3 separate regions of the Homo sapiens genome follow, and all the other regions are linked to region 1. Evidence: fine-mapped expression QTL. A gene starts in region 1. Each other region holds a variant in brackets. All regions are shown on one strand. Distances are between the middles of the regions. Region 1 holds the start of PLEKHB1 (pleckstrin homology domain containing B1). Region 2 overlaps RAB6A (RAB6A, member RAS oncogene family). Region 3 overlaps MRPL48 (mitochondrial ribosomal protein L48).

Region 1 (2,761 bases):
AATAAAGATAATATAAATTATTCTCATTATATTATACTCTCTAGAAAATGTAAGTAGTAAATTTGAATTTGATGAGCCAGTCCACTATTTCCTAAACAATGTATTATCTGTGGGCTGTTCATTCACCAGGGACACTTGAAATGGCAAAATCTTTTCCTCTCTGCCAATGGTTCTGTGCACCATAGCCACAAAGAAATGTAAAAGTTACTTGTTGGCTTATTAGTCTCAATAAGTTTTAGTTGATTGAACAAACAAAGTCTCTCACAGCCAGGACTGCTGCGGCTGGAATTCCTGACATACTGTCATACCTCTCACTCGTCAATCTACACTCTCCTCCCATCTACACAGCTCTGGAAATTAAAAACAATCCAACCATGACTATCATGGCTTCAGAGGTCTATGAACTCCCAGGAATTATACGCAGATTTTTTCCTGAGGACAGTCTACACTTCCTTATTGGCTTCTCAAAGAGGGTCACTGACCAGCTTTTAGAGACATGGGCCAAGTCCGGCTACGTTTAGATTCGGTAGTAGTGTCTGTGGTTTTAGTTTGCCACGTCCTTTCCTCTTTTTTTCGTCATAGTGCCCGCTCTTTGGGAGGTAGGGGAGAGTCTTCCCCTGAAGTCTCCACTGCTGCTGGAGAACCTTCCTTTTTCATCTGGTTGCTAAATCCAGAGAATGAAATCTAGGAGATGATTGCACCGTCCCCGCCCCTCAACATGAAGGATGCCCCACTGCCCATCGGGGAGGGGAGCAGGGAGAGCTGGAGAGAGGCTGGGTCGGGGCAGGACCCAGGCGCAGATCCTCCGAGGCCAGCTGCAGCCCTACCTACCTGCCTTCCCGTCTTTCCCCTCCCTTCTTTTCTCCTTCTGTCTTTCCTTCCTTCCATATCTCTTTCCTTGCCTCTTTCCCCCTCCCACTGCTTCCTTTCTTCCTTCCACTGTGGAGGTGGAAAATTTAGCTAGGAGAAGCTGGGACTGGGACGTTCCAGGAACCAGACAGAGAGTGAGTTAAAGGCACAGAGATGAAAACGCGGTATGGGAGAGCTGGTTCTTGAGTCGGCTAAGAGGGGATGAACTCAATGGTTAATAGGATTGGCCATGGCGAATCCCTCAGCAGGGCACGCACCGCACAAAGGGCCGAGGAGCGAGGGTAGCTCGAGGTCAGGATTACAGAGACTCAGGAGCAAGAGAGGAAGGCTTAAAGAGCCAGACTGCGCAGCCAGGACTGGGGTGATGGGCGCTGTCCTGCCAGGCCAAAGAATGAAGATGTAGCCCCGCCCCCAACCTAGGGAGGAGGACCAGCCCGGTTCCTGTCCTGCCCCCGCAACCTCGCCCCGATTCCACTCCGGGAACCTCGGCGATGCTGAGCCAAGACCACTTCTGAATCAGGGATGACTTGTCTAGTGAACCTAGGGTCAGAGCCATCAGTTGGAAAGGCTGGGAGGAGCCTGGAGAAAGAGGGCGACCTTCCTTGGGATCTGTGCGCTCCCTCCTTGCCTCCCCCTCCAGCCTCCCACTTGGTAGCACCTTCCTGATCCCCTTATCTCTAAGGCGCTCAGGGAAATGCCCCGCTGCGGGAGCCTTCTGGGAAATGCTGCCCTGGCCACCCAGGAACCATGAGCCCTGCAGCCCCGGTAAGGAAGAGTTCTCTGGGACAGGAGGAAGGGCCCAGGGCAGGGTGGGCACCCTTGCCACATAGGGGACGGGACAGAAGTCTTTTAGGCCCTGACATCCTCTGGTCTCTGAATGACATCCTGTGGCTGCTGGTAGGTGAGGGTTTGCGGGGCTGAGCTATTGAAGGAAATGATCACAGTCCGAGGTGATAGATACAGAAAGTCTTCCTTTCTCCAGGTGGGCTCCCGCCAGTCCATTCTTCACTGTGCCCTAGAGGGGCCTTTCCGACCCCCTAATCACACACCTCACTCCTCATCTTGAAACTCCCACCCCCAGCTCCAGTCACTGCGTCCTAACATCCAAGCTCTCCGCCTGTCATGCAAGGCCTCTGTGCTATTTCTTTCCAAACCCTGCAGCTCTATCGCCTGACACTCCCGATGCCCTCCCCACCCCTGCGCTTTATGTTCTAGACACACGGAAATGCTGGGCACTCTTCAACATCCTGACAGTATTCATAGGGGAAATTTCGGGTCGCCTAGGAAACTGCCCCTCATCCTCCAAGGCCCCTTTCAGCCTCCTCTGGGAAGCCTTCCTGAACCCCTTGAGAAAAGTCAGGCTCATCTTTTCCATTGTTAAATCACACCTTGTGCTCCAATTGTGTGTTTCCATGTAATCTCCCTCACTAGACTGGAAGCTGGGGATGGAAAGGGGAAGCATCAAAAAAACATGCAAAACTAGGAGCTTGGCTTCTCCTTGCAACTTTACTTTTTCTTTTTTTCTAGGAACTGAGTTCAATGATTCTTAAGAAAAAGTATTTCATGATAAATGAGTGAACAAATGTCTTAATAGAAAAGTAAAATTGCAGGCGGGGCTGCTTCTGCCCAGCTCTACAGGGGTAGACTACAAGTCCCAGTACGCCTCGGGTCAGCATCTCTTCACGTCACTCCCCCTCCCTGGGGTGGGCAGGTCCGGAGGGCGGGGCCCGGGGGCAGCTGGGCTCTCAGGCGCTGCGGGAGGAGAGAAATGCCCCAGGCTCTCCGGGGCACACAAAGCGCAGGCGCAGCGGGTTGGGTGGCAGCAGCATCGAGTAGCGGCCGCTTAGGCAGCAACATCCGCAACAAGTGTAGACAAGGTGGGTGCATCAAG
Region 2 (2,761 bases), 87 kb after region 1:
GGAGTACAGCGGGAAGATCTCGGCTCACTGCAACCTCCGCCTCCCGGGTTCAACCGATTCTCCTGCCTCAGCCTCCCAAATAGCTGGGACTACAGGTGCACGCCACCATGCCGAGCTAATTTTTTGTTATTTTTAGTAGAGATGGGGTTTCATCATGGCCAGGATGGTCTTGATCTCTTGACCCTGTGATTCGCCCGCCTCGGCCTCCCAAAGTGCTGAGATTATAGGCGTGCACCACTGTGTCTGGACTGTATTGATATTTTTAGGTTAATCCATATGAAAGTGTCATGAGGTCAAAAGTAGTGGAATGCTGGCAATTTCTTTACCAATAAGCACATTCTCCAAGGGCAAAAACCATATCTGATTATTTTTCTATTTTGCCAGTGGCTTGACACAGACTCAAAATACAAAATGAATGCAAAAAAAACCTTATCAATTAGAAAGGAACTGGGTAAATCAACATCTCCAATACTCCCAAAATGTACTTTTTGGGAGGATAAGAACCATACCTAAAAGGCCGGGTGCGGTGGCTCACGCCTGTAATCCCAGCACTTTGGGAGGCCGAGGCGGGCGGATCACGAGGTCAGGAGATTGAGACCATCCTGGCTAACATGGTGAAACTCCATCTCTACTAAAAATACAAAAAATTAGCCAGGCGTGGTGGCGGGCACCTGTAGTCTCAGCTACTTGGGACGCTGAGGCAGGAGAATGGCGTGAACCCGGGAGGCAGAGCTTGCAGTGAGTCGAGACTGCGCCACCGCGCTCCAGACTGGGTGACAGAGCGAGACTCTGTCTCAAAAAATATATATAAATAAATAAATCAGCCGGGCGTGGGGGAGTGCGCCTTGTAAACCCAGCTACTTGGGAGGCTCAGGCAACAGAATCGCTTGAATCTGGGAGGCAGAGATTGCAGTGAGCTGAGAGTGCACCACTGTACTACAGTCTGGGCGACACAGTGAGACTCTGTCTCAAAGCAAACAAACAAACAGATCTGTTCAGGCAGCTATCCTTTCTCCTCAGTGATTTTCTTTTTTTTCCCCCGAGACGATGTCTTGCTCTGTCACCCAGGCTGGAGTGCAGTGACGCGATCTCGGCTCACTGCAACGTCCACCTCCTGGGTTCAAGCAATTCTCCTGTCTCAGCCTCCCGAGTATCTGAGATTACAGGCGTGTGCCACCATGCCTGGCTAATTTTTTTACTTTTAGTAGAGACAGGGTTTCACTATGTTCGCCTGGCTGGTCTCAAACTCCTGACCTCATGATCCGCCTGCCTTGACCTCCCAAAGTGCTGGGATTACAAGCATGAGCG[T/A]CCACATCTGGCCTCAATTATTTTCTTCATGGCATCTGGAAACTTGTCTTGGTTGGCAGAAGCTGCTTCTGCTGTTACATTGATTTTTTTGTTGTTGTTGTTTTAAGCCAAGTCTTTCAAAAATCATCAAGCCATCCCTTGCTGGAATTAATTCTCCAGCTGTATTTTAGGCCAGGCGCGGTGGCTCACAGCTGTAATCCCAACACTTTGGGAGGCTGAGGCAGGCAGATCACCTGAAGTCAGGAGTTTGAGATCAGCCTGGCCAACATGGCAAAACCTCATTTCTACTAAAAATACAAGAATTAGCCGGGTGTGGTGATGCGCGCCTGTAATCCCAGCTACGCAGGAGACTGAGGCAGGAGAATCGTTTGAACCCAGGAGGTGGAGGTTACAGTGAGCCGAGATCATGCCACTGCACTCCAGCCTGGGCGACAGGGTGTGAGACACCATCTCAAAAAAAAAAAAATAAATAAATAAAAATAAATAAATAAATAAAGAGAATGGACAAATTGTGGCATAGTCATAAAATGAAATATTACAATGACAAAATATCCTAACATGTAAAATTGTATGAACAAATTTCAGACACTACATAGAGTGAAAGAGACCAGATACAAAAGAATATATACTCTGTAATTCTATTTATATGACGTTCAAAACTGGTAGAATTAATGCTGATAGAAGTCAAGAAAAGTTGTAAGGGGTTTCTAACTGAGAAAGGGAGCCAAGGAATCTTCTAAGTGCTGGTATTAATCATTACAAAGGTGAATAAAAAAGTAAAATTTCCAACAAGCCATATATTTAAGATTTGTCTACTTTGTGCCCTTTACTGGATGTTATACTTTAAAATAAAATCTTTTTCTCAAAGAGTAAAACACTTTACTATATATGTATCATTCCCAATAAAAAGTGTATATATGTATGTGGCTATCAAGAACCCCTGATATACTGTGACAAGAAGGGCACTTCACCTTGTGAAGTGAAAAAAACTCCAGTTTAATAACGGAGAAGAATTTACCCAGTTTATCAAGTTTTTGTTTGTTTTTGAGACGGGGTCTCACTCTGTCGCCCAGGCTGGAGTGCAGTGACACGATATCAGCTCACTGCAACCTTCACCTCCTGGGGTCAAGCGATTCTCCTGCCTCAGCCTCCTGGGTAGCTGAGATTACAGGCGCCCGCCACCACGCCCAGCTAGTTTTTGTATTTTTAGTAGAGACAGAGTTTCACCATGTTGGCCAGGCTGGTCTCAAACTCCTGACCTCAGGTGATATACCTGCCTCAGCCCCCCAAAGAGCTGGGATTACAGGCTTCAGCCACCGCACCTGGCCAGTTTATCCAGTTTAATAGTGAGAAAAAAAAATGGCAAACCCAAATTGGAGATAAATCTACAGTAGCAGTCACCAATCTTTTTGGCACCAGGGACCAGTTTCATGGAAGACAGTTTTTCTGTGGG
Region 3 (2,761 bases), 190 kb after region 1:
TACACCCTAGCCTGAGTGACAGAGTGAGACTCTGTCTCAAAATAATAATAATTTTAAAATGCCATTTATTTATTTATTTTTAATTTATTTTTTTGAGACAGGGTCTCACTGTCGCCCAGGTTGGAGTGCAGTGGCGCGATCTTGGCTCACTGCAACCTTTTCCTCCTGGGTTCAAGCAATTCTTGTGCCTCGGTTTCCTGAGTAGCCAGGATTACAGGTGTGCACCTCCATGCCCAGCTAATTTTTGTAGTTTTATTTTTATTTATTTACTTTTTTTGAGACAGGGTCTCACTCTGTCACCCAGGATGGAGTGCAGTGGCACCATCTCGGCTCACTGCAACCTCTAGCTCCCAGGTTCAAGCAATTCTGGTGCCTCAGCCTCCTGAGTAGCTGGGACTACAGGCGCCTGGCTGCAACCTCCACCTCCTGGGTTCAAGCGATTCTCCCTGCCTCAGCTTCCCAAGTAGATGGGATTACAGTCACTCACCACCACATGCCCAGCTAATTTTTTGTATTTTTAGTAGAGACGGGTTTTCACCATGTTGGCCAGTCTGGTCTCGAACTTCTGACCTCAGGTGATCCTCCCACCTCACCCTTCTAAAGTGCCAGGATTACAGGCATGAGCCACCGTGCCCTTCCAAAAATGCCACTTATTATTATATACCAGGTGCTGTAAGTACTATGTGCCAGGCTTTAAAGACATTATTTCATTTTATAGCCTTATAAACATATATATTATTTAAGCCTTAGAGTATCATATGGTTATTCAAGACCCTGTTTGAGGAATCCAAGACTCAGAGAAAGATTAAATGATGTGCCCACGTGGCTAGAAGTTTTCAGAGCCGATATTTGGAATGAGGATGGCCAGAATTCATCTAACATCTCTAGTATTTCCATTTCATATAAATTCACTCTATTAAGCTTCACAATAACTTTAGCTGTTACAGATGAGGAAACTGAGGCCTAGAAAGGTCACACAGTGTCATGTAGTGACTAAGCAGATAGTTAGGATTTGAGGTCAGATTTTCTGTGGCTTCCATCTAAGTCTAGTGCACTTTATATAGCATCAGGCCATGCCTCCTTGCTACCCCAGTCAGAGCCAGGCCTTTTGTCCATATGTCTCTCAAGTGTATAACACCAGGTTATAAACATACTCAATCGCTGCATACCTCACAGCTCATTATGGACTGTTGATAGTACTTAACCCCAAATCATTCAAATCCTCGGGTGTAAATTTTGTTATTTTCATCACTAGAATTTCTGGAAGCTGAATATGCTGCAGGCATATCAGCCTTTTTGTTTGAGGATTCAGATAATGGATTAATTCTTATCCAACTTTCTCACCCTGGAGAATGTCACTTATAG[C/T]GATGGGTAGATACTATCACTTTAAAGGAGAGAGCCTGGGCTTGGGGCTGCAGACTCAGCTTCCAGTTCTGGATAGACATAAAGTTGTTACCTTTGCCCTTGTCTTGCTGTTAAACCTTACACAAGCCATTTTCCTTTTCTGGGTCTCAACTTCCCCCTTGTGTAGAATTAGGGGGAAGGAGAGATTAAATTATCTCTAAGATCCTTTCTGGCTGTAACAGGCTATGATTCTAATTTGATTCCTTTCTTTATCTGCTCTTTCCAGCAAAGTTTCTCAGTAACCTTGGGCAAATAACTTACCTTCAGAGGACCTCAGTTTTCTGTCTGTGAAATAGGGGTAATAATGTGAACATTTGTGTACAAAACTTGTTTCATAATTTACCCTATAGTCTATTTGGGGGACCAGAGTGCAGTCCTACAAGGACCTAAGAATGACAATCCTGGGCCATCCCTTAGTGAATCTAGGCCATAGGAGTGCCAACGTTTGATGATGGACAGTAGTCCATCCTCCCTACTACGTTTCTCCTAACTTCCTTTCCTTTCCTGCCTGGCTGGCCTTCATGTGCAGTCAGGTTGGGCTTCCCAAAACACAGCTTTATTCATGTATATCCTTTGCACAGATTTATTTATTTATTTATTTAGAGACAGAGTCTCGCACTGTTGCCCGGGCTGGAGTGCAGTCAGTGGCATGATCTTGGCTCACTGCAACCTCTGCTTCACGGGTTCAAGCGATTCTCCTGCCTCAGCCTCCTGAGTATCTGGGACTACAGGCACCCGCCACCACGCCTGGCTAATTTTTTTGTATTTTTGGTAGAGATGGGGTTTCACCATGTTGGTCAGGCTGGTCTTGAACTCCTGACCTCATGGTCCGCCTGCCTCGGCCTCCCAAAGTGCTGGGATTACAGGCATGAGCCTCCACTCCTGGCCCACAGATATATCTTTAATAGTTCCTCATGGCATTCATGAAGTCCTGAACTCAATCAGTAGGCATTGAGAGAATGGGATGGATGTGAGAAAAATTGTGTAGATAAAATGACAGAAACTGGCATCTGGTATTATATGCAGTTAAGCTCTTGCTGGCTATGCTGTGCCCTGGCTCAGAACTGAAATATGTATTGTAATATCACAGTGGGATCTTGATAATGTGAATTGGTTCAGGTAGATCTAGGCCAACATGGGAAAGCAAATGAGATGCCAAGATGGACACTGGGATCAGCTTTCTTTTCTTTGTTCCCCTAAAGCAATACCTTTGGAGAGTCCTGGCATTTTCTGTGGTTAAGAAAAGCCTCCTACAGGCTTCAGAGAAGCTCCTCCCCTCTCTGCTGGAAAATTTCAGCCACTCTCCATTGCATTCTGACTTCAGCATTCTAGACAGCTCTTACTGCAGTGCTGCCTG

What was found. PIP is the estimated chance that this variant, and not a neighbour inherited with it, causes the effect.
Region 2: its variant is the best candidate, but not a certain one, in a credible set for the expression of PLEKHB1 in whole blood (TOPMed, PIP 0.58).
Region 3: its variant is the best candidate, but not a certain one, in a credible set for the expression of PLEKHB1 in whole blood (TOPMed, PIP 0.68).

The regions. Positions count from the first base shown.
Region 1 is chr11:73,644,992-73,647,752 of GRCh38, forward strand. It overlaps PLEKHB1 (pleckstrin homology domain containing B1), which reads left to right and starts at 1,590. Exons shown (of 8, transcript NM_021200.3): 1 at 1,590-1,635. The coding sequence starts at 1,618. RefSeq lists enhancers at 1,155-2,073, 2,709-2,761 and a silencer at 2,449-2,668.
Region 2 is chr11:73,731,790-73,734,550 of GRCh38, forward strand. The region is part of intron 1 of RAB6A (RAB6A, member RAS oncogene family); the gene reads right to left. Among named protein-coding and RNA genes, the nearest start is that of RAB6A, 28 kb to the right of the region's middle. The variant T/A (reference allele first, on the strand shown) is at 1,309.
Region 3 is chr11:73,835,860-73,838,620 of GRCh38, forward strand. The region is part of intron 4 of MRPL48 (mitochondrial ribosomal protein L48); the gene reads left to right. Among named protein-coding and RNA genes, the nearest start is that of COA4, 40 kb to the right of the region's middle. The variant C/T (reference allele first, on the strand shown) is at 1,366.